Regions from separate parts of the Homo sapiens genome. Here regions 2 and 3 are each linked to region 1. The links come from fine-mapping of genetic effects on gene expression. A gene starts in region 1. Each other region holds a variant in brackets. All regions are shown on one strand. Distances are from middle to middle.

Region 1 (10,190 bases):
TCGCCAGGAGCAGTGGCTCACGCCTATAATCCCAGCACTTTGGGAGGCCGAGGCAGGCGGATCATCTGAGGTCAGGAGTTAGAGATCAGCCTGGCCAACGTGGCGAAACCCCGACTATACTAAAAATACAAAAATTAGCTGGGCGTGGTGGCAGGTGCCTGTAATCCCAGGTACTCAGGAGGCTGAGGCAGGAGAATCACTTAAACCTGGGAGGTGGAGGTTGCAGTGAGCCGAGATTGCGCCACTGCACTCCAGCCGGGCGACAGAGCGAGACCCTGTCTCAAAACAAACAAACAAAAAAACAAAAAACAAAAGAAAAGCAGAATCTCAGGCCTCACCCCAAACCTACATAACCAGGATCTGCATTTTAACAAGATTCCCCAGGTGATCTGGCTACACAGTAAACTTTGAGATGTTCTGCCTCATAGCTCTTTTAAACAGAGGGAGGAGAAAACAGAAACTGATAAAAACACACCCTTTAAACAGGGCTTCACACTAAAGAGCTCCAAAAGGTATATGTCATAATGTTTCATTTCAGGACTCTGGTGCTTTTACCAATGTTTAAATTTTTTGTTTTCATTTTTGTCTTGAGGATCTTATGGCCCACTAGCTTGAGCTCCCCTTTCCTTGAGAAGAAAAGCTCCCTTTGTCCTTTGAGTTGACCTCTTTGGCACTGATTTTTTTCTTTCTGTCTCTAGAGGGGCTTTGACTCCCCAGTTCAGCATTTTATCATAAGGTGGTCAGAGAGCCAATACCTGACAAAGTCCTACTCTGACGGACTTTCACAGCTGGCGAGTGAATAAACCCTCTCTCCTAAAAGACAATGGGATTCTCTATCTACAGCCAAATTTGTTCTAATTAGCTGGCTCTCAGCTTTGCAGGGGCAAGTCTTCTGGAGGTTAATAATGCTATTTTGAGCATACCTGTATCTCGCCTGTTAATGAACATGATGATGTCAGCATAAAATAGTTTCATTCCACAAAGAAAGACTTTATCCCCATTCCCTGTCTCATGTCTCCATTCTGGACTTGCTTGTTTTTACTTAAATTATGTTCAAATCACACTTCCATTAGTGTTAATTTGGTGGCTTTTGCAATGTTTTTTCATTCTTTACCTAACAGGTGATTTCTTCTTTGCTTAGCCCGGATGGAGACATTTGTTTTGTTCAGCAATGTCTTTTGATTATTGGCCTAAATAAAAGAGCAATGTTTCATGCCCGGTGCTTAAATTTTTGCTTGAAGTGTGTCAGGACAGAGCATCTTTGGCAGATATTTATCTAGCATTGGTTTAAGGAAAACTAGGCTTTTTCAAACCTGTGCTATCTGAATGCTGTTTGATTCTTGACTCTCATAAAGGACATCTTAACTTTACCTACTGGTAAGATATGGAAAAAATACTATGTGACTGCTAAGGATCTGGAAGCCATGAAAATTTAATTGCTAGTTAAAAATTTTAGGCAGCTTTCTGTAGGATCAGACCCGACATTTAGATGTTTTGATAAATATAACATTAATTAAGATACTGCAATCCTTCCATACTGGCTAAGTAGCCCTTGGAGTAATCACCCCTCCACTACCACTGGCTGCCATTCCCACTATACCCTGTCTCCTCACCCCTGCTGCAGGAACCACTCCTTCCTCCCAACATCAACACCACCATTTCACCAGAACCCAGCACTAAAGAATAAATGTCTGGCCTAGCAGAAGCCTTCAGGACTCAGCTCTAATGCTAGTGCCCCTGTGGCTGGCTTGACTTCAATTAAGTTGGCAGGTGGGTGCCCTGCTGTACAGGTTGCTTAATCTTTTAAATATCCTCTTTGTGAGAATTCAATCGTCTTGTTATGTAGCTCTTGAAGAATGTGCAAAACATTCAGAAAACAGTCCTCAAATCTTTGAAAGAACGTCCTGTTTGGAATGGCAAACATAATTGTGCCGACTTTGAGACAGTTAAGAGTATTTGGTAACCCTCCTCTCAAGGATACAATATTTCCTTTCTTGGAGGTGAGAAAAGAGTTGAGAAACTAAATTGACTTAGGAGTCAAAATTGGACTCAGGTCATTTATTACATAAAACTAGATTTGCCTCCAAACTTTGCACTATGTTTTTGTTTGTTTGTTTTGAGATGGAGTTTTGCTTTTGTCGCCCAGGCTGGAGTGCGATCTCGGCTCACTGCAACCTCCGCCTCCCCGGTTGAAGCAATTCTCCTGCCTCAGCCTCCTGAGTAGCTGGGATTACAGGCGCCCACCAACACGCCCGGAACATTTTACCATTTTTAGTAGAGTCGGGGTTTCGCCATGTTGGCCAGGCTGGTCTCTAACTTCTGACTTCATGTGATCCGCCCGCCTCAGCCTCCCAAAGTGCTGGGACTACAGTGCACTGTGTTCTTAACGTGCCTTTAGATTCCCCAGTTCCTAATATCAGGCACACAGAAAAACGGAGGTGAGAGTGTTTCCTGGCTTCCTCTTTGAGATGCCTTTAGGGCCCCCTAGTGGCTGCTTTAAGACCTCAGGTTTCTTAGGATTCGGTCTCCTTGACCCTAATAAAAAATAAGAGACCTTTCCGAATCTCTTCAGTGACAGGTACAATAACTGTGTGGAGATAAACAGATAACAGTTGGTTTAGATAGCTCATTTTTTTTTTTCATTTTTCAGTTCTCAGCAAAAGCTGCGCTCATTCTTTACAAATAACAGATATATCACTTTACATATTTTATTCTGCATTCTCATACTATATCGTAGCGGAAATCCTTTTAAGACATTTGTATCTTGGTTGTGTCAAAAGGCTATAATTCCTGGTAACTACATCCTACTTCAGGGTTTCCATGTATATGTATATACATATTTAGTTGCTTGGACTGGGGAGTTGAGGAGCTTTACAATTTTCCAACGTAATACTTTAAACCTGGGGCTTGATGTACTAACCAGAGGACTCAGTATGTGGCACATTTCAGTCTGACAACATTAATATCATTTAGAGCATTAGCTATGCCACTGACTGCAGGCACTTGCAACCTTGATTTGATAAAACAAAGCTTTTCCACATTTAAGGTGCTTATTGACCAATGCAAGTACACTTTGTGAAATCCACTAATAAGGCATTATGTCTTCAACGTGCCTTACTGACCAGCGTGAACATTGCTAGCTCCCACACCATGGTCACATTTTTCTTTCTTAGATTCCATCTAGAGAATGTACTACACTTGAGTCATTATAATGGAGATGTTTCTTTCCCGGAAGCTTATCTTTTAGTTTCTGATGTTATTCAACTATTTCTCCTTCGCTTGTAAATTTCAGGTCTTTTCCTTTCCTCAGTCACGTTACCTTTATTAATATGCTAATGTGCTGTAATAATGCATTTTACACCACTAATGAAGTGAAGCAAAGCAAAACGTAAAAAGAAAGTACAAATTCTCCCTTTAACTTTACCCGGTTCCGGGGAGGGGGTAGGGGTGAGAGAGGAGGAAGAGAGTAGGAAGGAAGGACATTCGGGCGGCAAAAAAATAAAAATGATCCCCTTGTTTTCAGCGCGTTCTGGAACAGAGCTGCACGTCAGAGGAAGAACTGAGCAGCCTTCGAGCTAAAAGACTTGGCATTAAACTTTGACACTTTAATGGTCTCTAGGATATTAGATAGTATTTTTTCATATAATGTTCTTCTCCGACACGGTAATGGCATCAGAAACAGAATCTGCTATGCCTGCCAACGTGCACGGTGAGGCTCATCGCCGCAGAGGTAAGACAGCAGGACCCCAGCTTCGCAGTTAACTTATCCCGAAGCTCCAAAGCAAACGTCTTTTACTTCTTCGCCGGGGACGCTGCTGTACCACCGCTGCCTCCCTTTCGCATTCTGCTGGGCTCGGTCAGCCGCTGAGATTAGGTAAACAGCGCTCCGGAGCCGGGGCAAAGCGGGCGCTGCTGCTGCTGGTGGGGGTCGTTGTTTCACGAGGCTGGAGGGAAGGGGGATGGGAGAAGGGTCCCAGCTCGGTAAAGCCAAAGGCCGAGAGTGTGGTTACCGAGGCGGGAGCCAGGTCCGGAGCCAAGCAGGGGCCAAGCCTCCGAAGCCCTTGCCGCCCCACCCCCCCAGCCCGACCTCGAGGAGTGGGGTCAGCTGGGCAACCCAAGCTCGGCGGCCCTTTCCCGCGCGCCCCCTCCCCAGCCCATCCTTCCCCTGCCCCTTCCAAGAACTAGGGTGGGCTTCCCGCTGCCTCGCTCGAGTCCTGGAGAGCGGAGAGGCGCGCAGAGGGAAGGCAAAGACCCGGCGGCCCGCCCGGCTGGGGAGAGGTGGAGACCCGGGGGGAAGGGGACCCCAGAAGCCCTGGGACCGAGCTGCGGAAAAACCCGGGAGCTGGATCGCGCGCCCGGAGCTCCGGTCTCCGAGTCCGAGTTGTGCAGCTCTCGGCGTCCTCTTTCTCTCCCTGCCTCTCTGCTTTCGCCTCCTCTGGGTCTTCTCTCGAGGGCATCCTCCTTCCATCCATTCTCACACCCCCGCTCCTGTGCCCCGACCCATTTCACCCACTTCTCCTGTGGCTCGGGAGGACTCTCCGTACCCCCACCCTGGTCCCTAGAACTGGGAGGCTGGAAGTCCATTCAAGGGATGTTGCGCGCCGGGTTCTTATGCCAAGAGGGAAAGAGCGAGAATAAAATCAGCAGGGGAGGGGCGTGTTGTGCGTGCATGGGGTGTGTGTTTGGGGTGGAGGAAAAAGAAATGTAGTTTCCTCAGAGGAAGAGGAAGCCTTGGACAGGATTCTTGGATACCGATCCCAGAAAGATGCCGTCAGAGCCCTTCGGCGGGGCTCCTCACAGACTCCGGCTGCCCCACAGCATGCCCACCTCCGAGAGAAGCTGCGACCCGAGGCGGGGAAACTTCCTACTTCTCACGACGGCTGTTTTGTGCAATTTGGGGAGCAGGCTGCATGGTCCTGCAAGCCTGCGAGCCTCTCTACCACGGCAGCTGCGGGCCCGTCCCGCTTCCCTTCCCCCTTTTTCCGCGAGGCACGCCAAGCCCGAGGCGGCCGGGAGCCGCCGGGGTTGGGGGAAGAAGGGCGGGGAGCTCCCAGCTTGCACCCTTTCATCCCGACCCGGCCCGGGATCCCGGCTCCGGGTGTTGCTTCCGCCTGCCTGCCAGCCAGCGAGCTGAAGAAGCACCGGGGCGGAGTCTCGCCGGGGGGCGGAGCCTGTGCGGGGGCGAACTCTCGGTCCGCGCGGCTGCGGCGCTTGCCATTGGCCGGCCGCTCGGTCACGGGGTCGGGGGCGGGCGCCGACGCGGGCGCCGGCCCCGCCCCCGCTCGGAACCCAGCCCCGGCTCGCGGTCCCCCCCGGCTGCACAGACATGACACAGACACACAGTCACTGCAGCTGCTGAGCGAGTCCGGCGCTCTGGGCACGCGGAGGCGGCGGGGCCAGCCCGGAGCCCGGACCCCAGCGCCCGCCCCTGCCGGTTCCCGCGCGGCGGCCCACTCCTGGCCGGGCGCGGGAGGCGGGGATCGCGCGCCGGCTCCGGCCAGCGGCGCCCGGCTGCCCGCGGCGGCTGCAGCGGCCGCCCAGCTCCGAGCGCCGGGCGCTCCGGGAAGCCGGCGCATCTCGGAGGCGGCGGCGGCGGCCAAGGCCGGCGAGCGCTCCCGGCGGCGGGGGCCGCCCGCCTCGGCTCCCCGCACCCACCGCGCCGCGATCCACTCGCCGCGCCTCCGCTCCCGTGACCTTCCCGGGGCGCCTCCCCTAGCCCCGCGCCCCCGGCCCCGCGCCCCAGGCCGGGGCGAGGCCTTTTCCGGCGCTTCTTTCCCGCGGAGCCGCGGGCGGGCGGCGCAGGCCCTGGGGGAGAGCGCGCCGCGGCCGGTTGCAGCCCCCCCCGCGCCGCCGCGTTCGGCGCCCGGCCCGGCCAGTCTGCTCCTGCCCCGCCGCCGCGCCGGAGCCCGGGCGCCCGAAGCTGGGGGCGCGGCCGCGCTCGTCTCGCCGGGCTGTTCGCGGGCAGGCCCTGCCCTGAAGGGACGAATCGGCTTGGAGCGCGGGAGGTGGAGTCGGCCCCGGCGGTCGCTCCCTGGACCCAACCCGAGGCTGACCCAGGCCCCTGCCCATGCGGGGCGCCCCTGGCTCGGAAGAGTCCCCCGGGCCGGGAGCAGCTCCAGGCAGCGGCCCCGGAGGAAGAGGAAGAAGGGACAGTGCTCAGCTTGGGGGACCCGGACCCTCGCCGCGGCATTTGGAGCCGGGGGCAGTCCCGAACTCTGTGCTTGGCACCGCCGCTCCGAGTAGGGCAGCGCCTGCCGGGACCCTGACCCGGACCCCCTGCGCCTCGTAGGCGGCGGCGCCGCCGCGCCACCCTGTTCTTCCGTGTCTCCCTCTGCCTGGCGGCAGTCACGGCCAAGGTAAGAGCCCCGGAGCGCGAGAGTCGCCGCGGGGGCGCCGTGGTGTGTAGCGCCGGACAAGTTCTCCGAACCTGTGGCTGGTACCCCCTGTACTCGGGATGCCGGCGGGGAGGCCGGGCACACCCTCTGCTGCCCCGGCCGGGAGCCCTGGAGAGGCTGGAGGTGGAAGCCCCCAGTCTCCGAAGTCCCCAGGACCCCCTCAGGGCCTGCTCGGCTTCTGGGCACACAGGCTGCTGGCAGGGAGCGAGCCAGGAGGAGTTTCTGGTTAACACCACGAGGGCATGTGACCGATACCCGCACCCCCGGCCCTCTTGTTAGCGGTGAGCACCTGTGGTTCGCGGAGCCTGCCGTGTTTGGAGAGGGCCCTGTTGGGCGGTACGCAACTACCTTTCGTGGTGTGATGCTGTGAATAACTTTTCTTGTTCCTTCTTGCAGACAGTCCTGCGCAATTTGGGGGCGAGCAGCCACAGCTTGCGAGTCCCTCTTTAGGACAGAGTGGTTGGTTGGCATTGCTATCTGTAGGGGGGAAGCCCAGCCAGCATGTCCTTCCTGTTAGTCAAAGCTGCTTGTGAGGAGTGATCAGTGTATAGCTATCCAGACATTCTTGTAAATGTCACTGCTTTTGAAGTTTTGGAGTGAGGACTCCAAAGTTTGTGTATCCTCAAGTTATTTTGTTCATTGCCTTATCCTCTTTTAAATGTTCCTCTTAAGGAACCTCAGTTGTACAAGCCTGTCCTTGCCTGTTTGAAATTTATTAAACCTGTGAGCTTCCCCCAGAACAATCTGATTTTAAATGGGTCACTTCGGAGGGAACAGATTGTCTCTTGCACACTGAATCCATCCCTTGGGTGACCCTGTTTAATGGGGTTGGACTCTTTTTTTTTTTTTTTTTCGTCTCTGTGCTGATGTGCCTCGGTTGAGCAGGTTTCTGCTGAATTCAGAATCCGTGAATTTTGTCACTCAGTCCATTAAAATGATCTCCTGAGGGAGCAAAATAGCAGCTTACATTTTTCGTGAATGTCACTGGAAGTTTTACAGGGTCTTATGTAAGTGCCCAGAGAGAGAGAGAGAGGAGGGAGTGGGGGGAGATCAGGCTCCTGCTTCCTTCAAGGGGAGAAACGGAGGGGGTGGCAGGTGGGGGCGTCCGCCTCCCTGACATGCAGATGCCTTTCTTCTCTGACACAGGTGTGGAGACCTGAAGTGCTTATCATTCCGTGGAGGCAGTCACCTCGGGTTAATTTTTCTTCTCACTTCTCCTGTCTTCCCACCTCAGGAGTCAGCTTTGATAGACTTAAGATAAGGAAAGCTTCTAAATTAAGAAGGGAACAAGTGGTGGTTGTTTCTTCTCCCATCCCTCACAAATGGGTGACATGAATGAATTACTCACTGGCACGCTTGGTCCTCCCTAGGGGTAAAAATAAAAGAAATAAAAACGCCAGCTTTAAGATTTCACACATCTCTTAGTGTACCTTTATTGTTCAAGAGTACTTTAGTGAAAATTGCTTGTGGAGAACACATTTATCGAGCCTGTCCCTGTTAATTCCATACCAGGAAGAAAACTCACTCGAACAGAGAGGCAAAAATCACCAAGATTTAGAGGTTAGTGGGTTTTCAAGAGTGGCGAGGAAAGGAATCAAATCCCCCTGGCAGGAGAGAGAGGTTTTTAACGGGAAGATCGGATTGCTCTGGAGTGAGCAGTAGCTGCTGACAAGTGTGGGCCCTCCTGCTTCACTTAATGAAGTGTGCTGGGGTGTGGATTAACTTTTTGATGTGAGCCAATGCAGATTCCTTTGGCTTTTAAACCATACCTGGAAGGGCCTTAGAAATGAAATGAAAGGTTTTTTTCATCTCATCATAGGTCTCGGAAGTGCTTCCATCTCTTGGGAAGGTTGTGACGAAGGTTTCCTTTGTTTCTGGGTTCCTGAGCTGCGCTTTAAAGTTGATGCACAGTGCAGGGAGGGTGCGTCCTGTAGTGTCGCCATCCTTCAGCCACCTACAGTAGCAGGACACTAGGGGGGACTAGTTATCTTTTCCACCATCGAAGAAGAAAACACCAGGGCCCATGTTACTGTGGTTTATCTTGAGGGTTCATGAGCCTGTGGTTTATGTTGAGGGTTCGTGAGACTGTGGTTTATCTTGAGGGTTCCTGAGATGAACTTTTTGGGATCTAGTACATGCTTGCACTAGTGAGTGGATTCTGAGTGCCTAAGGGATGGGCCTGCTCACATCTAAATTGTCATTTGGACAACTCAGAACCAGTTAACTGCAAAATGTTATGTGACATTCTGAAAAGACTCAGTTATAATCTCTAAGTATTTAAGGACTACAAAAAGGCTCTATCCTTTGAATATTAGACCATCCTAACTTTAAGTTCCCTAACAGTTTGTAATCAACACTTTTGGTGTTTGGTTTTTGACTGCATATTCCCTGCAGTCATCATAAAATCACATGGCTTCAAAATGTCTCTGCAGTGGACTCCATCAAACTTAAAATTCCCCTTAAAAATACATTCCGTATACTTAGAGATGTTAACATAACATTTGACGGTGTAGTTGCACTTCCACCTCAGACGCTGTCTGCACTTTTAATAGTATGAAATCATTAATGTCCACAGCCCTTCCAGCAGAATTGGAAGATAATTCTACTTCCCTGAAGAACACTGACTGCCCCATTGCCTAGGTTTACCCAAGTAGCTAAGTCTTATCAAAGCTGATCCCAGAGGTGGGAGTAGCGGGGAGACAGGAAAGATGCAAGGTAGAGGCCAAGAAGAGCCTGCTTAGTTTAGAATACTGTCACAAAAACAGGCAGATATCACCAAGATGTTGGTCACACTGGATTCTAAAAGGCCCAGTTCAGCATGTAGAGTTAGACTCTGTTTGAAACCTGTGAACCCACCTGAGTTATTACTTTTCCCTTGAACTCTGGGGTCTGGTAGACGGCATTTGTGACCCTTTACCCATACGTGTAGTGCACATTTAGGTAGTTGAAGGGGAGCTATTGTTGTGGTCTAGGAAAAATGGTCAGCAGACAGCTTTATTTCTAACATTAAGACTTTATAGATTGATTCTCTTGGGCACAGTACAGCCAAGGGGTAAGAGATTGGAACAGGAAAATACCATCGCATTTGCCATTGAGCACCAACGATTGAAGACCGATCCTGTGGAGAATATATGCTGTCATCCTGAGACATGAATGAAGTCTTATGAATTTGATGGAAGCCAGGTGGCAGAAGTAGAGGCAGGAGGCTGGCCTTCCTTACGGTCCGTGAACAAGATGAAGGTGTCTTTTTGGCTAGAGATTCTCAGAAAGGAGGAGCATACTGCATTGGGGGTGGGGGATATAAGACCCAAAAGGCTGAGAGCTCTAGACACCCTGCCACTGACACACCTCGGGGATACAGCCACCTTGGAAAATCTGCTTAGTGTTGGTGAGGTCGCTCTACATGGAGTATTTGCCATTGAGAGGTGTTCAGCATTTCTCTGTCACATTGGCGTATGGAGAGTAGCAGGCAGCAACGAGTGAAAGGCTTCGTTAAATGTATTTTATAAGACTTTTCATCTTTTCGTTTAACAAATAATAATAGACCATCTACCCTGTGGCAGGTGCCATGCTCTGTGTGGAGGTTACAGAGTCAGGTTACATTTAGCTTCTAGTCTTTTATGGGAGGCAGACATTCAGCTATTTGTTTGTTTGTTTGTTTTTTCTTTTTTTTTTGAGATGGAGTCTTGCTCTGTCAGCCAGGCTAGAGTGCAGTGGCATGATCTTAGCTCACTGCAACCTCCGCCTCCCGGGTTCAAGCAATTCTCCTGCCTCAGCCTCCCGAGTAGCTGGGAT
Region 2 (10,190 bases), 360 kb after region 1:
AAGTGGGCTTAGAGGAGACCTGTTGCTTGCCCCGCATGAGGCTGGATGCTGTGCCTTCTCCTGTGAATACTATAACATTGTAGGCCCCCATTTTCCAGATGAGAAAACTAAGACTCAAGGAGGTTAAGTGAGTTACCTGAGGTCACACAGCTCATTAAAAGTAGAACCAGTTCTATAGCCCAGGCTTCAGGGCTCAACAAACTATGCCTCTTCTGTTGTTCTGTCCTGACCCTGGATTTTAGCAATCATGAACACTTCTGCTCCTAGGTGAGGAAAATATCAGAGAAAAATGAACTCAGGCCTGGCTGACTCCGTAGTCATGCACATTCATCAAACAGTTTTTGAATAATTACTGTGTTGTTACCACAGTCAAAAAGACATCGTCCCTGCCTCAAGGAGTTTCAGTCAAGTGCAGGAGAGGGGCATGGAAAATTGAACCCAGCAGGATAACATGCTGTGCTGGAGGAAGGGAAACAGCTTGCTTCTTGCTTTGGGAGCCCCTAATCCAGCCTGGGGCTGTGGGGGTGGGGGTGGCTGGAAGGCAGTGATTTCTAAGTTGAGACTTGAAAGAGGGGGAGAATGTGGATGGAGGTGGGGGAAGAGTGCTAGATATCATGCCGTCTCTAAGAGGGTGAGCTATTTGTAATAAATGTACCTGCTTCTTACCACTTGTTCTTTCCCCACCACCAAATTTCTTAATTTTCCACCTTTTCCTGGGGCTTTCTTTCTGAATACAAACTCATCCCATTGCCTCCTTTACAACTAATTGAACACTTGGACTTAATTGATTATGTATTAAGTTGGGGACTTGGAGTGACATTCAGGACTGGGCTCATGTTGAGATTAATTTATTCCTGTAGTCTTCCTGTTTTGCAGTGTAACTGAGTGCCTCACATGTGTGTTAAAAATAAAACGGAGAGTCAGGGCAATCTAATTAGACAGCTTAACCCATCACTCTCGTGTTCAGTCTTCACCCAGCTCTCCTGCTTTGATGGTAACCAAAATAGATGAATAAGTTAATCAAAGGTCTGATTAAATAGCACAGCTCTGCAGCATGGACTAATGATTGCCAAGCCTCAGTTCAGGCAGATTGCTAGAGGAGAGAGGAAGCTGAGCTGAGCTCCAAAGGCCAGGGCTTTCATGAGGAAGATGTTTATAAAGCACATGGGAGGGAATTCCTCACTGAGTCCTCGGATCTTAACGGTGATGGCTCACTCTAAAGGAAGGATAATGTAGTTTGGGGAAAGAACACAAACCTTCTCCTGGCAAATTCTGACTCTTAGAGCTTTGCATCTTGCTGGCTGTGGGATTGTAGACAAATCGCCCGCCTTCCTATGCCTGCCTGCCATCCATCATCCATCCATCCATCCATCCATCCATGCATTCATCCATCCATCCATCCATCTGTTCCAGATATGTGTTTTGTACCTATTATATACAAGGCATTGTGCTTATTTTTTTTTTTTTTTTTTTGAGACTGAGTTTCGCTTTTGTTGCCCAGGCTGGAGTGCAATGGTGCGATCTCTGCTCACCGCAACTTCCGCTTCCTAGGTTCAAGTGATTCTCCTGCCTCAGCCTCCCGAGTAGCTGGGATTACAGACATGCACCACCACACCCGGCTAATTTTGTATTTTTAGTAGAGATGGCATTTCTCCCTGTTGTTCAGGCTGGTCTCGAACTCCCAACCTCAGGGGATCCGCCCACCTCAGCCTCCTAAAGTTCTGGGATTACAGGCGTGAGCCACTGCGCCCAGCCAGGGCATTGTGCTTTGATTTTGTTGTTGTTCATTTAATTTGCCCTTGTGTTAACTGTATGACTCGGTTGTGTGAGGTTTTTCCTTCTAGGTCCTCTCTTGCCGTAACCCTCACTTTATGCTCCATGAGGCTGATGCATAAAGCATCTCTAGTCTCGCTTTCGCTCTGGTTTCCGTTAGGGTTGACTGGAGGGCTGCCCTCCCGGGAGACTGGTGGGCAGGAGGGAAGTGAGGTTGAGATGTTTTTTCCTGTTCTGGCTTATGCGTTGCCACAGGTAGGCTGTGTCCCTCTGCTGAAGGTCACTGCCTCAGCCAGGTGGCCTTACTCAAACAGCAATTCTCTCTGGATTCCAGCATCTGCTGGCCTGGGCCCTTTTGGCCTTGGGGTGGTAATGGCCCCAAGTACTCTTCCCCTCCTCAAGTAACTGCACGGTTCTTGTTACTGCCCCTAATTCTGCATATACTTAGATTAAATAGTCCTTTTATTAAATCTTCCTTAGATTCCCCAGGAGAGTGTGCTGTTTCCACCCACACACTGCCTGATAGGATGAAGTAAGTGTAGCAACATGGATGGAGCTGGAGGCCATTATCCTAAGTGAACTAACTCAGAAGCAGAAAATCAAATATCACATGTTCTCACTTACAGATGGAAGCTAAACAACGGGCATACCTGGATACAAAGCTGGAAATAATAGACACTGGGGTCTCCAAAAGAGGGGAGGGTGAGAGCTGTGTGAGGGGTGAGAAATTGCCTGCTGGATACAGTGTTCAACATTCAGGTGACAGGTATACTGGAAGTCCAGTCTCCACCATTACACAGTGTACCCATGTAACAAAAATGCGTGTGTACCCCCAGAATCTAAAATTAAAAATTTTTTAAAAAAGAAATCATGACCTTTATAAATAGCAGAAACTCAGAAAAGCTGAGCAAACCTGTCCAAGGTGACATGGCGATTAAGTGATGATACTAGAATCTAAATCCAGGCATGCCTGAATCTACCACCCAGGGTGTTTTGCTCTCCTGCATACATCCCACAGACCCTTACCTTCATCTGGAAGCACCAAAAGAGGCACTGATAGCTAAATACATGGAATAAGATAGAGGGATCAGGAAGAAGGGCGGGAGCTTATTACTGAGTATATTTTGTGTACCACGCCCTTGAGTCCTTTAATATAATTTAATTTTTATACCACTGTGTGAAGTAGGCATCGTCTCCATTTTACCAACTTTTAAAAATGAGCAACTACTCTTAAAAAAAAACTAAGTAACCACATTTTTTTCTAACATCATAGTCTAGTGATGGTGGCACACAGGAGGCCAATTTAGGGCAGCTATGAGACAGGTTCCCCATGCTGACTCATGAGACCCATTCCATCTCTGAAACACACTCCATTTTACAGGTAAAGAAACCAAGGCTTAGAGAGATCAAATGCTTTGTGTGGGGCTAGAGCCCAGATTTGAACTTCTGTCCTTTTTCCCCACCTCCATGATGCCTGGGTGTAGGGTGACAGGGACTCATACACAGAGTTGGGGATGCTTTTTTTGAAATTGATGAGAGGTGAAGCCAGCTGGACTTCCTGGGTCAAATGGGGACTTGGAGAACTTTTATGTCTAGCGAAAGGATTGTAAATGCATCAGTTAGCACTCTGTAAAAATGTACCATCAGTGCTCTGTGTCTAGCTAAAGGATTGTAAACACACACCAATCAGCACTTTATAAAATGGACCAATCAGCACTCTGTAAAATGACCAATCAGTGCTCTGTAAAATGGACCAATCAGCAGGATGTGGGCAGGGAGAAATAAGGGAATAAAAGCTGGCCACCCCAGCCAGCAGCGGCATCCCTCTCGGCTTCCCTTCCAAGCTGTGGAAGCTTTGTTCTTTCGCTCTTCACAGTAAATCTTGCTGCTGCTCACTCTTTGGGTCTGCGCCACCTTTAAGAGCTGTGATACTCACCACAAAGGTCCACAGCTTCACTCTTGAAGTCAGCGAGACCAAGAACCCCCCGGAAGGAGCCAGCTCCGCACACAGTTTGATGTCTTGCTGCTATTTTTTTCTTCCTTTGCATAGATTTGGGTGAATGTGTTTCATTTGGTTTGATTACACGTAGTTGTTTTTAAGTAAAAGCAGTTTTAAAGCTTGCTTTTTTCCCCTTTAACATCATATGCAGGTTTTTAGAAATTATATCTTGATCCACATTGTTTTAAACAATTACATAGTATGCTATCAGAAAAACAAGAGTATCATGTTTGAATTAATTGTTCCATTTTGGGGCATTTTGATGGCTGTTCTTTGGTAACATGGTGATGAACATCTTTGGGAATAAAACTTTGGTGTCTAAAACAAAATTTTTAAATTTGAATTTTTTTAAGAACATCTCCTCAACATGGTATTTGTAAGGTCAAAGGAGATCAATATTTTTTGGAATCCTGAGAAGGTGGCCATGTTCCCTGTTTTAAAGGGTTCTATTAAAAGTGTTACCCTCTTGAAAATAAGTGTGCTTTGGCTCCCATGGAAACTCCCCATGGCAGCTAGGTTGGGGCCTCTGCCCACA[G/A]TGATCTTCATAAATGACTGTGCATAGATGAGAGCTTTCATCACACTGGTGCTTTTATTTTTATCCTTGCCTTTGGACACAAAATGGCACCCGTGTGTGTACCTCGCTGATGACTCTGCCCACCTGCAAGCCATTGATTGTTCCATTATGTTATGTGAGGATCATAATGTCAGTGCTCCATGGGTGGTTCATTTCTGTCCTATGTGTGTGTCCTCTATTGCTGTCAGGTGAAGAGTGTCGCGTGATGACTAGGTCCTCCTTGACTAGGAGGTGAAGAGTGTCACGTGATGACTAGGTCCTCCTTCTGTCCTATGTGTGTGTCCTCTATTGCTGTCAGGTGAAGAGTGTCGCGTGATGACTAGGTCCTCTTATTTATCTGAGAATAAAGAGAAGGCAGCAGTAGTAATCTATTCAATTACAGTTTTAAAAGAATAAGCATAAGCTTTAACAATACTACTGCCCACTAATCTTTAATGACACGTAAATGGAATATGATTTAAAGAAATATACGTACATAGGAACAATTTGATACTGGTTGCAAAAGTATTTGTAGTGGGATTCAATTTTTGGACCTTTATGTTTTTGCATATCCTTTTTTTCTCTAGTGGATCTATTTAATTTCTATAATAACAAAAGTTTTATTTAAAAATCTCAACATAGGATTTGCAGTAATAATTATTTCATAACTATTACTTTTCCTCTCCCTTAATTCAGATACATTTTCCTCCAGAAAACTTCACATGTCAAAATGCAAATTATATAAATCTTTAAAAGAAAACTCATTCATTTATTCAACAAATTTTTATTGGATACTTTTTGTGTGCTAGGCACTATTTATAATGTTTAAGCAAAGAATTAATATAGCAATTTTTTTTCCCTTTCTCCAACTCTCTCTCTGCCTTGTTCTGTCTAGTCTGAAGTTTCCTGGATCCCCAATAAACATTACTCTGGGATTTATGGTCTGATGAAGCTTGTCCTGACCAAGACTCTTCCTGCCAACCTGGAGAGAGTCATCGTCCTTGACACGGATATCACCTTTGCCACTGACATTGCAGAGCTGTGGGCTGTGTTCCACAAGTTCAAAGGTAATGGTAGCCCATTCGTTTTTTCCCCGATATCCTTGTAGGTATCAGCATGCCAAGAATAGGGGTTGACTTTTTTAAAAAGGTGAGGTCTCCTCGAATGAGGTCGTGCTAATGCAGTGGGTGAGGAATTACAAATATGGTTCAATATCAACTCTGCTTGGATTTGAAAAATAATAGAGTAAAACAGAAACTTGTTTACATGTCTTTAGTAAATGAAGATGTTTTTAACAGATAAATATCAAATGTGTGTATTTTGTATGCAGATAGCGGAGTGTTCACATACTGGTCGGGACGTGTGTTCATTGGTTTTCTTTTTATCGAAGGATAGTCTAATTGCCAAGAAAGCCTGTGAGGTAGTAGAGATGAGTATTGATTCTAGAGTTTTTGAAAATGTTCATATGGCTTTTGCTTTCATTAACGTTGTGGTTTATCATTTTAAGGAGATGTATGTATTTGGCTTTCTTTACAAGACGTTCTTTCTAGTCTGGTGGGTTTCTTTATAGCTATTATTGTAACTCTCGTCACGGCCTCAAGGTATATGAGAGTACCTAGGGGGAAATTGTGAGCTCAGTAGGTGTACTAACTGTGGCATGGATATGTGAGAGAAGTGGCAGGTTAGCACAAATCTTAGGCTGTTATTTTAATACCCCTCTCCCAGATGTCTTTTTAAAAATTATATTATTTTAAAAATTCTTCTATACTGGATGAGTACAATGAGAAAGAAATTCGACAGTGAAATTTTTAGTTTTATATATTTTTTTAATTGCACGCTAGCCCCTTCTGTGTTTAAAATCCCTTCTGCCATTCCTCTTAGCTCCATATCCTATGAAAGCAAAATACTACTTAATGATTTTAAATCCCAGCATTTTCATAAATCACAGGATATTCCTGTTGGTTTCTGTTTCTATTCATGAACAGAGAGTAAATTTCCTTGCTTGCCCTGGTCACTCCCTGCTTCCTTCTCAGGGCTTCTGAGCTCTGGGCTAATTGAGGAAAGTCTTCACCAAATCATGGGAATGACATTTTGATCCCCGGGACTCTTTCCCTTATCAGGATCAAAATTTACTTTTCTTATTCGTGTCAATAATGACACTAACAATGACATCATTTAGGACAGCTGTTGAAATTGAGTATGGCACAGCTCTCTAATCTTCATAGAACGTGTGGACGTGTCCTTTTGTTTCATAAAGAAAGAAACGGAAGCTTAGAGGGATGCAGGCTTTTCCCAGAGTTGAGATCAGAGTGCCCGTGTCTTGGCTTCCATCCGCTGCTCTTTTCAAGTTCCCCTATCGTGTCTGTTTGTTTTTCTCTTCCTGATCACAGTGAACTCACGAGGGGCAGTTTTTCTATAATTACATGGTGTTTTATTCATTTTCTTATGCTGATGTTGAGTGTTCAGTGATGCATTTCTTCAACTGGCGTTTATCGAATCCCTACTGGGTGTGAAGCAGTGTGACGGGCTCTGCAAATGAGGAGATGAGTAATGAGGGGACAGTGAGAGTTGTCACCTCTCCTAGAGGGGGTTAGAGAAGGTAGCTGGGAAGGTGTCACGGAGGAGCTCCTAATTGTGCTCTGTCTCATCAGATGAGAATGGTGGTCGTATGTACTAGACTCCCACATTTTCCTTTGGGAATAAAGGCCTTATTACGCCAGCTGGTGGGAGCAGTCCCTGCAGCGGGGGCTCTCAGAAAAGGCATCAGCCCTTTTTGCAGTTGCCTCTGTTGAAGTGAGTGGCCATGCCTGTGGCCACACCCCTTCGTGGGACACCCCACATCACGGAATGGCTGATGAACATGAGGTCCTGCAGGATCATCTGCCACACTCGGATACTGCCTCACAGGCTGATTTTCCCCTCTGCCTAGTCCTGCTTTCTCCCCTTCCCTTTCATAGGTGCTGTTCTCAAGAGCTCTCTCTAATAAACCTCTTGTATGCTGACATCCATCTCGGGGTCTTTTTCCAAAGAAACTCAACCCACAGCATATATTTAGAGCTGTAAGTCTCCGTTGGATAAGTATAACCACCATAGTCACCAGAACAGGTCATCAGAGATTGTAGAGCTGTAGCTAGGAAATCACGTTTATTCTCTTGCAGCTTGCAATGGCTATAGTGCTAGTGGCGCTCTGTAGCCAATAACAACGTGAATTGTCATGGTTATTTTAAATACGCTGATATCATCCGTGGAAGGGAAGGCACCAGAGCTCTTGCTGCTCCCATAGCTGGCCCAAGGACTTGATTTGGAGGACTCTCAGATTCAAGGCAGCTCCTGGGGTTGAGTAGGGTATATGGGCCAAGGTCAGGACAGGGACAAGGTAAATTTGAATGCAAGGAGCTGAGTTAATGGGCTGCATTTTATTTGTTCATTCTTTTGTTGGTTTATTTCTAGCATTTGTTAGGCCCCCACTGTGAAGAGGAATAGATTAGATGCTGTTGTTCCCTAAAGCTGTTGAGAACACAGCACCTGCCTTCAAGGAACTCAGAAACAAGGCAGAGTGCATTGCGTTTTTATCTATCACCAGCAAAGGAGTACAAAACATCAGAAGTTTTCCCATGCCCACCCTAATTTTTCTGGAAAAATACAGAGGTGAAAAGAAAATAAGTAAAGCTCATCTCTTCTCCATATGTCCCTATTTTGTATCACTTTTGTATGTGTGTGATTGTTTTTCTAAACCAAACTATTAGAAGCCAGGTCATGGAATAGGAAGAAAGCCTGTTAAGTCAGGCGCATAAATGTAGAATGTTCTGATCCAAGAGAGAGTGTCCTTCATAAAGGCAATTGTCGTTGACATCCTTCACTGTAAACGGTTGGAGTGATGTTGATACAATGTGGCCTGGCTAATTTTTCACTTTTTGAGAACAGCTGGTTGTCTGGGGCTGCAGTGGCTCTTGGTCAGATTGCGCTTGATTCCTTTGTGGCGCTGTGAAAGCCCCTTGTTCCTAAATTCATTACCGGGAGAATTACAAAGAAGCCTTTTTCAGGAGTTAGACCCATCCTCAGCCTCTACCAGAAGAAGCCTCTTAGAGATGTCCCCATCTTCCCTGAGCTCGACTTCAGCTAAGTAGCAGATACCTCCCTCCTATGTCAGCGGTTTGCACCTTTACCCAGCCTGCACCAACAGCTGGAAGATTTTCAGAACCACCAATTCTTAGCAGAAAGAATCAGACATACCATTATTGGCCAGGGTCAGGAGCCACCCATTCGGTCAATATTTACTGAGCTCCTTCTAGGTGCCAAATAGCTTACTGTTGGGACTGTTGCAAGAATAAGACTGTTTGGTGAGCCCGTAGCTACACCGGGGTGCTAGTACCAGAGTGGCTAGCAGCCCTGTCCTAACAGAACATTCAGGGGAGCTGGACATGGGTATGGTATGCTTCTCACGAGATACTTCTGGTATACCTGGCAGGGGTCCCTCACATGGGAAACTTATTTTCATAGGCAGATGTCCTTGCAGCTCTTGTCTGACCTGTGTTCAGTTTACACCTGTCTGACTACCAACTACTCTGCCACTGGGAGCCTGACCTTGTCCTCTCCCTGGCGTACCAGAGAAAACCAGCCTGGGGCAGCCCCTGGTTCTTCAATGGAAGGCGCAAATTCAACACACCATTACAATGGTGGAGCTGGTGAGGAGGCAGGTGGCTAAATGAGTGTTTGTAAAACAGAGGGAAAGCTAACTACCATTTCTTAAGCACGTCTTAGGTTCTAGGCACTGAGCTAGAAGCTTTGCACACTTGAAAGTTAAATAAACTGATGGCTCACGCCTGTAATCCCAGCACTTTGGGAGGCCGAGCCCGGCAGATCACGAGGTCAGGAGATCGAAACCATCCTGGCTAACACGGTGAAACCCCATTTCTACTAAAAATACAAAAAATTAGCTGGGCGTGGTGGCGGACGCCTGTAGTCCCAGCTACTCGGGAGGCTGAGGCAGGAGAATGGCGTGAACCTGGGAGGCAGAGCTTGCAGTAAGCCGAGATGGCGCCACTGCACTCCAGCCTGGGTGACAGAGCAAGACTCTGTCTCAAAAAAAAAAAAAAAGTTAAATAAACTGGGCTCAAGAGAGATTAAATTACTTTTCATGCTCAGAGAGCTATTACATAGTGAAACTGAACCCCAATCCATACGGCTTTGGAGTCTGTGCTCTGTCCACTGACCCAGGAGGCTGTACTGCACTTAGAACGGGTGTGACTGCTGAGTACGTGTCACCTTGGACCCCTGCATGCCTTAGTTTTTACTGCACAAAACACTGGAAATAATATGTGATTGTTGTCATTTGGGGAGGCTGTTGTGAAGGCATAAATAATAAATACACACCCATAATCTGAAGCTTTTGGAAGAAGGCCGTGCTGAATATTCAAGATAGTGATTTGATCCATAAGCACAGATGCCTCCCCTCTAAGAGGATCTTAGTGCCACAGAGTAAAATTCTCACCCTACAGCAGGTATGGTCAAACTATCCAGCGTACATGGGCACTGCCTTCCTCACCCTCACGGCACCGCAGATGTGCCATGCCACTGGGTATCATTCAGGGCCTAATAGACTCTGTGTTGTTCCTTACAACTAACATGTTTAAGCACTTAGTCTGTGCCAGCCACTCTGTTAAGGACTTTATGGATAAACTCATTTAATCCTCACAACCCTCCCATGAAGTGATTACTGTTGATGTTCCTATTTTAGAGATTTGGGAGCTGATGCTTAGGGAGGCATAGTTTACCTGGAGTCTCACATTTCTTAAGTCATGAAACCGAGATTTGAACCCAAACAGTCTAACTTTGAATCCAGTCCTCTTTACTCTGCACCCTCCT
Region 3 (10,190 bases), 700 kb after region 1:
AGGAATGTAAATTCTACCATAAAGACTCATGCATGCAAATGTTTATTGCAGCACTATTTACCATAGTGAAGACATGAAATCAACCTAGATGCCCATCAATGGTAGACTGGATAAAGAAAATGTGGTACATATACACCATAGAATACTATGCAGCCATTAAAGAGAATAAGATTATGTCTTTTGCAGGAACATAGATGGAGCTGGAGGCCATTATCCTTAGCAAACTAATTCAGGAACAGAAAATAGAATACCACATGTTATCATTTATAAGTGAGAGCTAAATGATGAGAACACATAGACACATAGAGGGGAACAACAGACAGTGGGGCCTAGTTGAGGGTGGAGGGCGAAGGTCAGAAAAAAAATAACTATTGGGTACTATGCTTAGTACCTGGGTGATAAAATGATCTGTACACCAAACCCCCATGACACAAGTTTACCTGTATAACAAACCTGCACATGTACCCCTGAACCTAAGATAAAAGTTTAAAAAAAGAAAGAAAATAAAGAAATAAAAAGAAAAAAAGAGAAATGCCTGGAAAATGCCCTGGCCTTCCAGCAAGCTGTAGGATGAGTGCTTATATTATCTGATTATTTAAAAATAAAGACTTAACTCTGAACATCTGTAGAATATGGGCATCCAATGTTTATTCTTAAAGCAGCTAGCACAGTGCCCAGCACATTGTAAATGCTCAATCATTGATCTCCTTACTTTTCTTTTGTATCCTTTGTGAACTAAGGTCCTCCCAAGGCACCCAGAACTAGTGCCGAGAGGGCAGTGGCTTCCTTGTGTCCTGCTCCCAGGCCCAGAACAGCCTCAACCGCTTTGCCAAGCAGACCGTCCTACCTTGCCTCTCCTGGTTGGTCTCTATCATGCCCACGGCTGTAGCACCCAGGGACACCTCTTCCCTGACATCAGAGTAGATGTGGAAAAGCAGTGTCTTCTGTTGGCATGCTGAGCAGAGGCTTTCTCAATGAGCCATTTGACATCCCTGACAGCCCATGCCAGAGGAACCTTCATCCAGAAAATGTGGAGTATAGAATTACCTGGGTTTCCAGTCAGCGACCTGGCAGGTGCTTGCCTACCCAGCAGGGTCTGTGCTCACCTAAGCATTTCCTGCAAAAGAAGAAAAATCAATCTCTTTTCCCTTGTCCTCCAAACAAATGACTTTGAATAATTGTTCTGATTCAGTTCCTCTGGCTGACAGGCCTGGCTCTGTCTTCTTCTGACAGGGGCTGACATCCTGTGAGCCTGTGTCCTGCCTCTCCTTGTTCTTCTAGACACCAGCATCTTTTTGTCCTGTTGCTAACAAGTGTGACACTCTGTGCTGCCTTTGACAAGGCATGCAGGTTGGGATGAGATGCATTATTCAGCTGGCACCAGGGAGCTTGTTGGATCTCGGTTTAGGTCACGGTGGACCCGAGTCCTAGGCCCACACTACTCAAAGTGTGATATGTGCACAACAGGTAATAGATGATATGGTTTTCCATGGTACTTGGACTGAACACTTTACTGTAGTAGAAAGACACCTGTTTTCTCTTAGAATATAGAGCTTCTCCTTAGGTTAGGTTTTTTACTCAAATCACTTGAGGCAAAAAGTGAGTCAATTTAAAGGAGATAATAGCGCTGGCACAATATGGGTATGGAAAAAGTCATGAAGGCAATCTATGAACAAATACCATGTAGGCAAATTTGACTCAGGGAGGAAGCTGAGCTGTCTAGTCATACAGGGCATTTATCCAGCACTTTTTGAGCACCTTCTTTTTTTTTCTTTTTTCTTTTCTTTTTCTTTTGAGACAGAGTCTTGCTCTGTCACCCAGGCTGGAGTGCAGTGGCGCGATCTCGGCTCACTGCAAGCTCTGCCTCCCAGGTTCACACCATTCTCCTGCCTCAGCCTCCCGAGTAGCTGGAACAACAGGTGCCCACCACCACGCCCAGCTAATTTTTGGATTTCACTGCATTAGCTAGGATGGTCTCGATCTCCTGATCTGCCAGTCTCGGCCTCCCAAAGTTCTGGGATTACAAGCGTGAGCCACCGCGCCCATCCTGAGCACTTTCTATGTGCCCCTCACTGTGCTAGGCTGTTGCAGAGCTGGGGGCATAGAGGTGGCTGTGAGCATACGAGGATGCCGACCAATGGTGGGGCTGGGTGAGCATTTGTGAATTGTTTGGGATTGACTGACTGTCCTATAGCAAAAACAAGCTGCAGGGCCAGGTGCTTTGTGACTCTAAGCGGAAGGGTCTGGTACCAGACCTAAAGTAAGATAATGTCAAAGGCTGGTCCAGGCAGAACTTGACATTTTTAGATAAGTGTATAACAAGTACGGTTCCTTGAGTCTAAACCGAGTCATTGACATGCAAGCCTAATCCAGTAGGTGACCTCTGAGGGGCTGAATTGCATGAGGGCTGCTTCTGTTGAACGAGGGAGAGAGAAATGTGGCATATGAGTATCACCTTTTTCCCTAATATGGTATAAGAACCATCACTTACTGACCACAGGACAGATTGGGCACCACACAACACTGGAGGGCGTCATTCTCATCTTAGGCATTGCTTGCACCTGAATTGTGGCGATTCCAGGCAGATGAAAGTAAACTCTCTGGTTCTATCCCAATCAGCCTACTATAACCATTTTCTAGTAGATGGAAGTAAAGTATCTTGAAGAAAAGGTGCCTATAGCAAATGCACAGGCCAATCCCTGAAATGCCCAATTGGCAGGCACCACGTGAGGTATCACGGTTTTTTTAAATCTGGATGTTGCCTACCATCAAATTCTTGGCTCATTTTCTGCTCAAGCTTCTGCCTTGCCCCTTTGACTTATTTCAAGGCTTTAGGAAGCGAACGAATAACAGTCTACTTTCTCCACCTGAGAGGCCAAAGAATCAGGCAGATAGAGATGAAACTATCACCGTTATTATGAATGATACTGGAGTAAAGTGGGTCAGCCTGTTGGAAAGCGATCTTGCTAACTAACCCTGAATAAGGCACGTTTATTCATCCAGCTGCTGGCACAACTTCACACCCATGCGTCTCCCCTGATAGGGGCAGGCTCTTTACAACACGTAAGCGAGCAGGTGAGAAAAAGGGTGCAGGTAGGCAGACCCCATTTAGGGGAGACTGGGGGGGCCTGCAACTCTGTAGTTTAAGTCATGTTGCTCCCTCTGGGGAAAAAGTCCAGGAACATTACTCAAATGGAGGCCCCTCTAGGTGTGAATGAGGTACCCTAGGGTTGCGGTAACAAATTGCCAAAAAACCAGGTGCCAAAACCAACAGGTATTTATTCTATTGCAGTCTGGAGGCCAAAAGTCCCAAATCAAAGTGTGGGCAAGACCATGATCCCCTTGAAGGCTCTACTCCTTGCCTCTTCCAGTTTCTGGTGGCTCTAGGGTTCCTGGGCTTGTGGCTGCTCATTCCAGTTTCTGCCTCTGTCTTCACATGGTCTTCTCCTCCTGTGTGTGAGTCTCCTCTTCCGACTCTTACAACATCACTTGCTATTGGACTGAGAGCTTACCCGGATAATCGAGGATAATGTCATCTCGAGGTCCTTAACTTAATTACATTGCAAAGACCTTTTCTCCAAAGAAGGTCACATTTGCACATTTTGGGAATTAGGATATAGACATATTTTTTGTGGGGGGGCACCATTCAACATGCTGCAATATGAAAACATGAAGAATGGAGGATAAATGCTCTCCCCCAAGGCCCTTCTTTCTCAGCAGTGCAGACCCCAGGCTCATGCTGGTAACCCTCCCTTCTAGACCCCTCACCCCTAACCCTGGCTGTCTCTCCTGTTGGAGCACTCAGGTGCAGCACCCTGGAGGCACAGAAAGGTCCTACGCAGTGGTGACCACCAACTTCTCTGCCCTTTTTCTTTTTTCTTAGATGTATTTTAAGTATCGTGTTCGAAATGATTCCTTGGTGAGTCCTTCCCTTGTCACCCAACCCACATGCTGGCTAGAGCTAAGGCTTTAGTGGAAATAGAGAGAAATTACATTTTAATGCTCCAGAAAGAGGTAGGAAGGAAAAGAGAGGGAGGGAGAAAAATGGCAAAGAGCCAGCAGAATTAAGTGGAACAAGCTGAGGGGCCAGTGAAAATGTTTAGTTGATATGTAGCCCGCCCATAGATATTTTAAGAAGGGGGAGGACTGTGGTGTTCTTATTGCTGTCATATAAACCTCCTTTCCCTTTTAAAATCTTTAGTAAAGACTTTAGTGTTCACAGATGATTGGTGGGGCTGGTTCCTATTTGGTGAGTGGAGGTTTCAGGAAGTTTCATATCTGGGTCAACCCAAAGCCCAGAAAAGAGGCAGTCCACAATGAGTCAGTATCCAGGAAGTAGAGG[C/T]GGGAATGGAAAAGGAAGATTCCAAGAATTTTCAAAAACACAAGAAAAGAGCTTTGGACTTCCACAGGCCATGGACTGGGGAGAGGTATAAGCCGATATAAATCCATCTTTTGGGGGTAAGGAGATATCCATCTAAAAGCTGGGTTACATTTTTTCTAGTCGTTTTTCCTCAGTTATTGAAATAAATGCAAATTTCCTTTGATGACTCAACATTTGCTTGATTTTTAAATTCCAGAATAGTGACCTTGAAGATGTATACCCAGTTTTAAATAACTTGCATCTTTTTAATGCTAAGAAGCAGCAAAATTTTTGACTTAAAACTATGTCCCAACCTTTACTCAGCAGGTGGTCCCTTGCAGAAGAATATCAGGATTGGCAGGAGAGAGAGAATTGAGATACGGAAAAAAACCGGCACAGGCATTTCCCCTCGATGTTTGTAATTGACCTTGCTAGAGATGTACACAGCACTAAATTTGTAATCAGAATCGTGTGTGGAAATAGCCTTTTGCTTAATTCCTTTGTGTTATTCCCTCTCTCTCTCTCTCTCTTTTTAACAACGGCAAGGTATTAAGCTGAAGATAGAAGGACATTATAATTTTATAAGTTTCTTAATGATAGGAGGATGTCTGCTTTTGCCGTCAGGTGTGTCTGGGGAGGGTGTGCTGAGGGGGAAACCCAGGAATCTTCCTGTGGGGGTCCCACAGGAATCTTCCCTGACCTTCCAGTTTCTCAGGGCCTCATTCCTGTGGGAGTGAGAAAGAGAGGGAGGAATGGGGAAATCAGAGCCCAGAATCCTTGCTCTAACCATGCAAGGCCGAATCTCTGTCCCCTGCATAGCAAGGGATTACATGCAACTGTTTATCCGAGAGAGTGCACATGAAGGATTCAGCTGAAAGCTCTTCCAGGAGATGGTAGGAGAGGGAGGAGGGCAGCCAGCATGGGCTGATAAAGGTACAAGATTCAGAGATTGATTCCTTTTCTGTGCTGCATCCTCTGTTGAACACACCAGACTCCCAGTAGTCAATGGGCAGCTTCAGCGCCGTGCTCAGGCAATTTAAAACTTTCTAAGATTATCCCTCAATACCTGTTCCAGGCTCAGAGGAGAGAAGAAACAGGGTCACTGACAATTTTTATGGATCAGGAAAGTGAAAAGCTGACGTACAAGCTTTCTTCAAATGAAAAAGGAGGGAGGTAGAATCTATTTTTTTCCCCTTTCACTCCACCCTGTTCTTTTATCTGTCTCTATATTCACTCTGCTCTTTCCCCCTCGTATGCTGACTCTCCATTTCCCTCTGTCTTTAGTCTTTTTGCTTGTTTATTTTTCTGTTCTTCTTTGATTTTTTTCACGTTTTAAACAACTGCTAAAGCAAAAACCAAAGCTGACAAAACAGCAAACATATATTGTTTTATTACCTAGCCTCCGAGCTTCTAACAGTATGAGCATAATATCTCTCCCTAGAGAGATGGTCATTTTGAGAAAATGGCTTGAGCTGGCAGCAAACTCAGTAAATTTCATTCCTCCTGAGCTGTGCGTGACCTCACAAATCCAAAGGTGACCTTTCTTTGTCCTCTTCCATTAAGATAGGTTAGCGGTTCTCACAGGAGCCCTCTGCAGCGGAATTCAGGATTGAATCAAATTCACCATCCGTTGTATTATCCCAGCAGTTATCAGCCCTTGTAGAATGCTACAACAAAAATCAAGGTTAGAGTGGACTTTTATGAGAAAGTATTTTTCTTTTCTTTTCTTTTTTTCTCTCTTCTCAGGACTAAGGCTGTGTGAGGGGAGGATTCCAGGTCCTTTATGAGAGAAATTGTTGGGAACAAACTGTCCCTTGTGACAGTGGGGGAGTTTGACCTTCATTGTTGCTCTCCATTTCAAACTAATTACCTGCTCCGTGGGCAGGCTGGGCAATAAATCCACCAGGCATGGCGTCTGAGTTCTGGCAGCTTCAAAGTGAGGCTTCAGCATCATGAATAGTAGAGGGTCACTTCTGGCAATGGTTGAACACCTTTCTGACTCAAGAATGAATCCTGAGGGATGCTGTCCAATAGGATTTAAGGAATCAGCACTGGATTTAGGATCCAGAAGAGATGGAAAGTTTGGGGTCCCTTTCCACAGAAATGCCCTATTGGCTCACACTTTTGTTCATTCACCTATGCAATGCTGCCTGATCTCCTATTCTCTGTAAAACACTGTGCTGAATATTAGGAAGGAGACAATATCATTCATAGAAAAGTTTCTCAATATTTAGCGTACACCAGGTTCTCCTGGGAAGATTGTTAACAAGGCAGATTTTTGTCACAAATACCAAAGATTTTAATTTGGAAAATCTGGAGTGAGGTCCCATGTCTACATGTTTTACAGGCAGCTTTGTAATCCTTGTAGAAATGACCTTTGACTGACACGATGAGAGACACTGGCTTCGTGGTGAAAAGTGCAGGCTTCTGATCTTATAGATATGGATTCATACCAATCACAGCCTCTAAAATAAGCTTTTCTCAGTCTGAAGCCTAGTTCCACCCCTTGGTAGCTGTTTGAATTAGTTAAGATAATGCCAGCTGCTGTATAAACTCCCCAATTTCAGTGCCTCAATACATTTGTTTCTCATGTAGGTGGTGCTTCCAGGTGGATATTCCTGGTTGATTGGTGTAGTCAGAGAGATTCAAGAGCCTTTCTTTACGGTGGGCTCCTTAGAGTTCTCTGCATCCAGATAGCAGATAAAGGCGGAAGTGGGGAAAGGCACAACTGATTCTTAAATACCTTCACTTGGAATGGACACACATCACTTCCACTTGGATTCTATTGCTGAGAACTAGTCACAGGTCCTGCCTGGATGCCAGGTGGCTGGGGAATAGTCATGTTAGGTTCCGCTTCCATGCAACCACTCTATATTATGGCAATGAAACAATACATTTTGCCAGACCACAGCCTTCTCTGCCACATTGTGTAAACTTGGCTGAGTCTCTAAATCTCACTGTCCTTATCTGTAAAATGGAGCTAACACTGCCTACCTCATCAGGTTGATAAAAGGATCATATGAGCAAATAAATATAGTACTATATGTACAGTGCCTGGCACACAGTAGGCACCCAATACATTTTAGCTCTTAGTTATGAATTCTGTCCCAAGGAGATCATGGCATGTACAGACAACAAGGTAGTCAGATGTGAGTACCACGAAAAAGGAGAAGCTAGAGTGTTATGGGGATTTGGAAGAGGGAAGAGACCACTTGCAAATACTGAAATCAGGGAAGACTTCAAAGAATTGACCTATGAACTGGGTTTTGGAGGATGAATAGTATTTGTGCATGCAAGGTATGAGATAAGGGCATTCCAAGCAAAAACAATGGTATGCATATAGGCATGGCAGAGAGAAAGGACAAAAAATATGCAGAGGATGTTTAATATGGTTGGAATATATAGGTGAGTGATGGTGACTTAAATGTCAGAAAAATGAAGTATTCAAGAAGATAATTAAGAAGTTATGGGGCCCAGCATGGTGGCTCATGCCTGTAATCCCAGCACTTTGGGAGGCCGAGGTGGGAGGATCTCCTGAGGTTAGGACTTCGAGACAAGCCTGGCCAACATGATGAAATCCCACCTCTACTAAAAATACACAGATTAGCTGGGCATGGTGGCAGGCACCTGTAATCCCAGCTGCTTGGGAGGCTGAGGCAGGAGAATCACTTGAACCTGGGAGGCAGAGGCTACAGTGAGCCAAGATTGTACCACTCCACTCCAGCCTGGGCGACAGAGTGAGACTCCATCTAAAAAAAAAAGAAAAAAAAAGTTATGATAAGGCCAGTTGCAGTGGCTCACACCTGTAATACCAGCACTTTGAAAGGCTAAGTAGGGGAGGATCACTTGAGGCCAGGAGTTCAAGACCAGCCTGGGCAACACAGTGAGATCCTGGTTAAGATGGTAAATTTCATGTTATATGTTTTTTAAACCATTATTCCTATTATAAGGAATAATACAGTAAATTATTTAAGGAATACCATATTATCAATATAGTTGAAGTCCTCTGTATACTCCTGCAAACTATATATCCTATTCATTTCCCTCCCAGAGGCAACCATCAGCCTGAACTTAGTATTTATCGTTCCCATGCATTTCTGTTTCATTTTACTACTTCACATGTATGCATTCATGGGCAATATAATAATATAGTGAATATTTAAACATTTTCTATAATGGTGTCATATGAATGTATTATCATGCACCTGACTTTCTGCCCCACATTATGTTTGGGAGACTAATCTGTGCTGCCATAGCTCAACTTCAGTGGTTCTCAAACTTTAGTGTGCACTAAAATTGCCTGGAGGGCTTGGTAATACACAGATTGCTGAGCTCAACCCCCAGAGTTTCTGCAGTTGGACTACGTAAGGACCTGAGAATGAATATTTATCATAAGTTCCTAGACGATGCCAATGCTATCAGTCCTGGAGAACTACTGCTCGTTATTTTTTTTTTTTTTTTGCTGTTAGATATTGTTAACTACCTATCATAATTTATTTATTCACTCTACTGTTGATAGATATTTAGGTTGCTTCCAGATTCTTTTGTATGATGCTATGAATATTGTGTACATGTGGGAGAGCTTCATTTGCATAGAAAAGTCTTGTCCAGTTCTATCCATCCTTGTTGATTAGCCTTCATGAAAGAGTCCCCATTGTTCCACATTCTTGCCAACCCTAAGTACTGTCCGACGTTTTAACTTTTGCCAATCTTAGAAGGGTGAAATGCTTATTGTTGTTTTCATCTACGTTTTCCTATTAATGAGACTGAGCACCTGCAGCAAATGCTCCATTTTCCTTGCCTTACCTGAGTTTGCCTCTAGCTCCCACATGTCCAAGCCCTATGCTGGCTTCCCACTGCAGTCTCCTGCATGTATCTTTCTTCTTTTCTGCCTGAGGGCTTTACCCAGCAGATGGGATAGCTCCTCTGTGGGACAGTGTGGGGTCATGTGCTACATGGTATCTCAAGAGAGTATCACTGGGGCTTTACTCTGTTGCCCTCCATGGTGAAATGATCATTAATTCTTGTTTGTTTTTGTTTTGCTTTCTACAATCCTTGTCTTACTGTCCCTATTTTCTTTTCTTTTCTTTTTTTTTTTTTTTGAGATGGAGTGTCACGCTGTCGCCCACTGCAAGCTCCGCCTCCTGGGTTCACACCATTCTTCTGCCTCAGTCTCCCAAGTAGCTGGGACTACAGGCACCCGCCACCAAGCCTGGCTTATTTTTTTGTATTTGCAGTAGAGATGGGGTTTCACTGTGTTAGCCAGGATGGTCTCGATCTCCTGACCTTGTGATCTACCTGCCTCGGCCTCCCTAAGTGCTGGGATTACAGGCGTGAGCCACCACGCCCAGCCCCCCAAGCCCTTTTTAATCCACTCAAGAGAGTGGGATAGCTCTCACTAGGTCCCACCTCCCAACACTGTTGATTTGGCACAAGAATTTGTGGGGGAGGGCACATTCAGACCATAGCATGTGGTATTATTAGTGCAGGAACTGGCAAACAGAACAATGGTGCAGAATAAAAAGAGAACTAGACCCAGGCACATATGGACATTTAGCACGTGACAGAGCTAGTATTGAAGAACAATGCAGGAAGGAAGGAGTATTCTGTAAAAGGCATCGAGACAACTGATTATCTATATGGAAAAAAATAAAATTGGATCCTTTCCTTCCACTAAATAAATACCAATTCCAGCTGAATTAGAAATCTCAATTTTAGAAACAGATGAATAATTTTTTTCTTTTGAGATGGAGTTTTGCTCTTTCACCCAGGCTGGAGTGAAGTGGTATGATCTCGGCTCACTGCAACCTCTGCCTCCCAAATTCAACTG

Direction of the effects. Positions count from the first base shown, and alleles are read on the strand shown. Sizes are in standard deviations (SD) of each study's normalised expression. Not every link is listed here.
For the expression in atrial appendage of the gene that starts at base 5,875 in region 1, allele A in region 2 goes with a lower level than allele G (small effect, 0.23 SD a copy in GTEx).

What was found. PIP is the estimated chance that this variant, and not a neighbour inherited with it, causes the effect. A credible set is the group of variants that fine-mapping cannot tell apart.
Region 2: its variant is the best candidate, but not a certain one, in a credible set for the expression of LARGE1 in atrial appendage (GTEx, PIP 0.80).
Region 3: its variant is the best candidate, but not a certain one, in a credible set for the expression of LARGE1 in whole blood (TOPMed, PIP 0.74).

Annotation. Positions count from the first base shown.
Region 1 is chr22:33,916,161-33,926,350 of GRCh38, reverse strand. It overlaps LARGE1 (LARGE xylosyl- and glucuronyltransferase 1), which reads left to right and starts at 5,875. Exons shown (of 15, transcript NM_133642.5): 1 at 5,875-6,356. It overlaps LARGE1-AS1 (LARGE1 antisense RNA 1), which reads right to left and starts at 5,126. Exons shown (of 2, transcript XR_001755630.2): 1 at 4,828-5,126; 2 at 3,296-3,944. RefSeq lists silencers at 5,008-5,507, 5,828-5,977, 6,248-6,347.
Region 2 is chr22:33,560,050-33,570,239 of GRCh38, reverse strand. LARGE1 (LARGE xylosyl- and glucuronyltransferase 1) reads left to right here. Exons shown (of 15, transcript NM_133642.5): 6 at 5,221-5,392. Among named protein-coding and RNA genes, the nearest start is that of MIR4764, 130 kb to the right of the region's middle. RefSeq lists a silencer at 303-597 and an enhancer at 4,211-4,280. The variant G/A (reference allele first, on the strand shown) is at 4,308.
Region 3 is chr22:33,215,870-33,226,059 of GRCh38, reverse strand. LOC124905106 (a long non-coding RNA gene) reads left to right here and starts at 4,275. Exons shown (of 2, transcript XR_007068071.1): 1 at 4,275-4,458. It also overlaps a transcript of LARGE1 not described here. The variant C/T (reference allele first, on the strand shown) is at 4,343.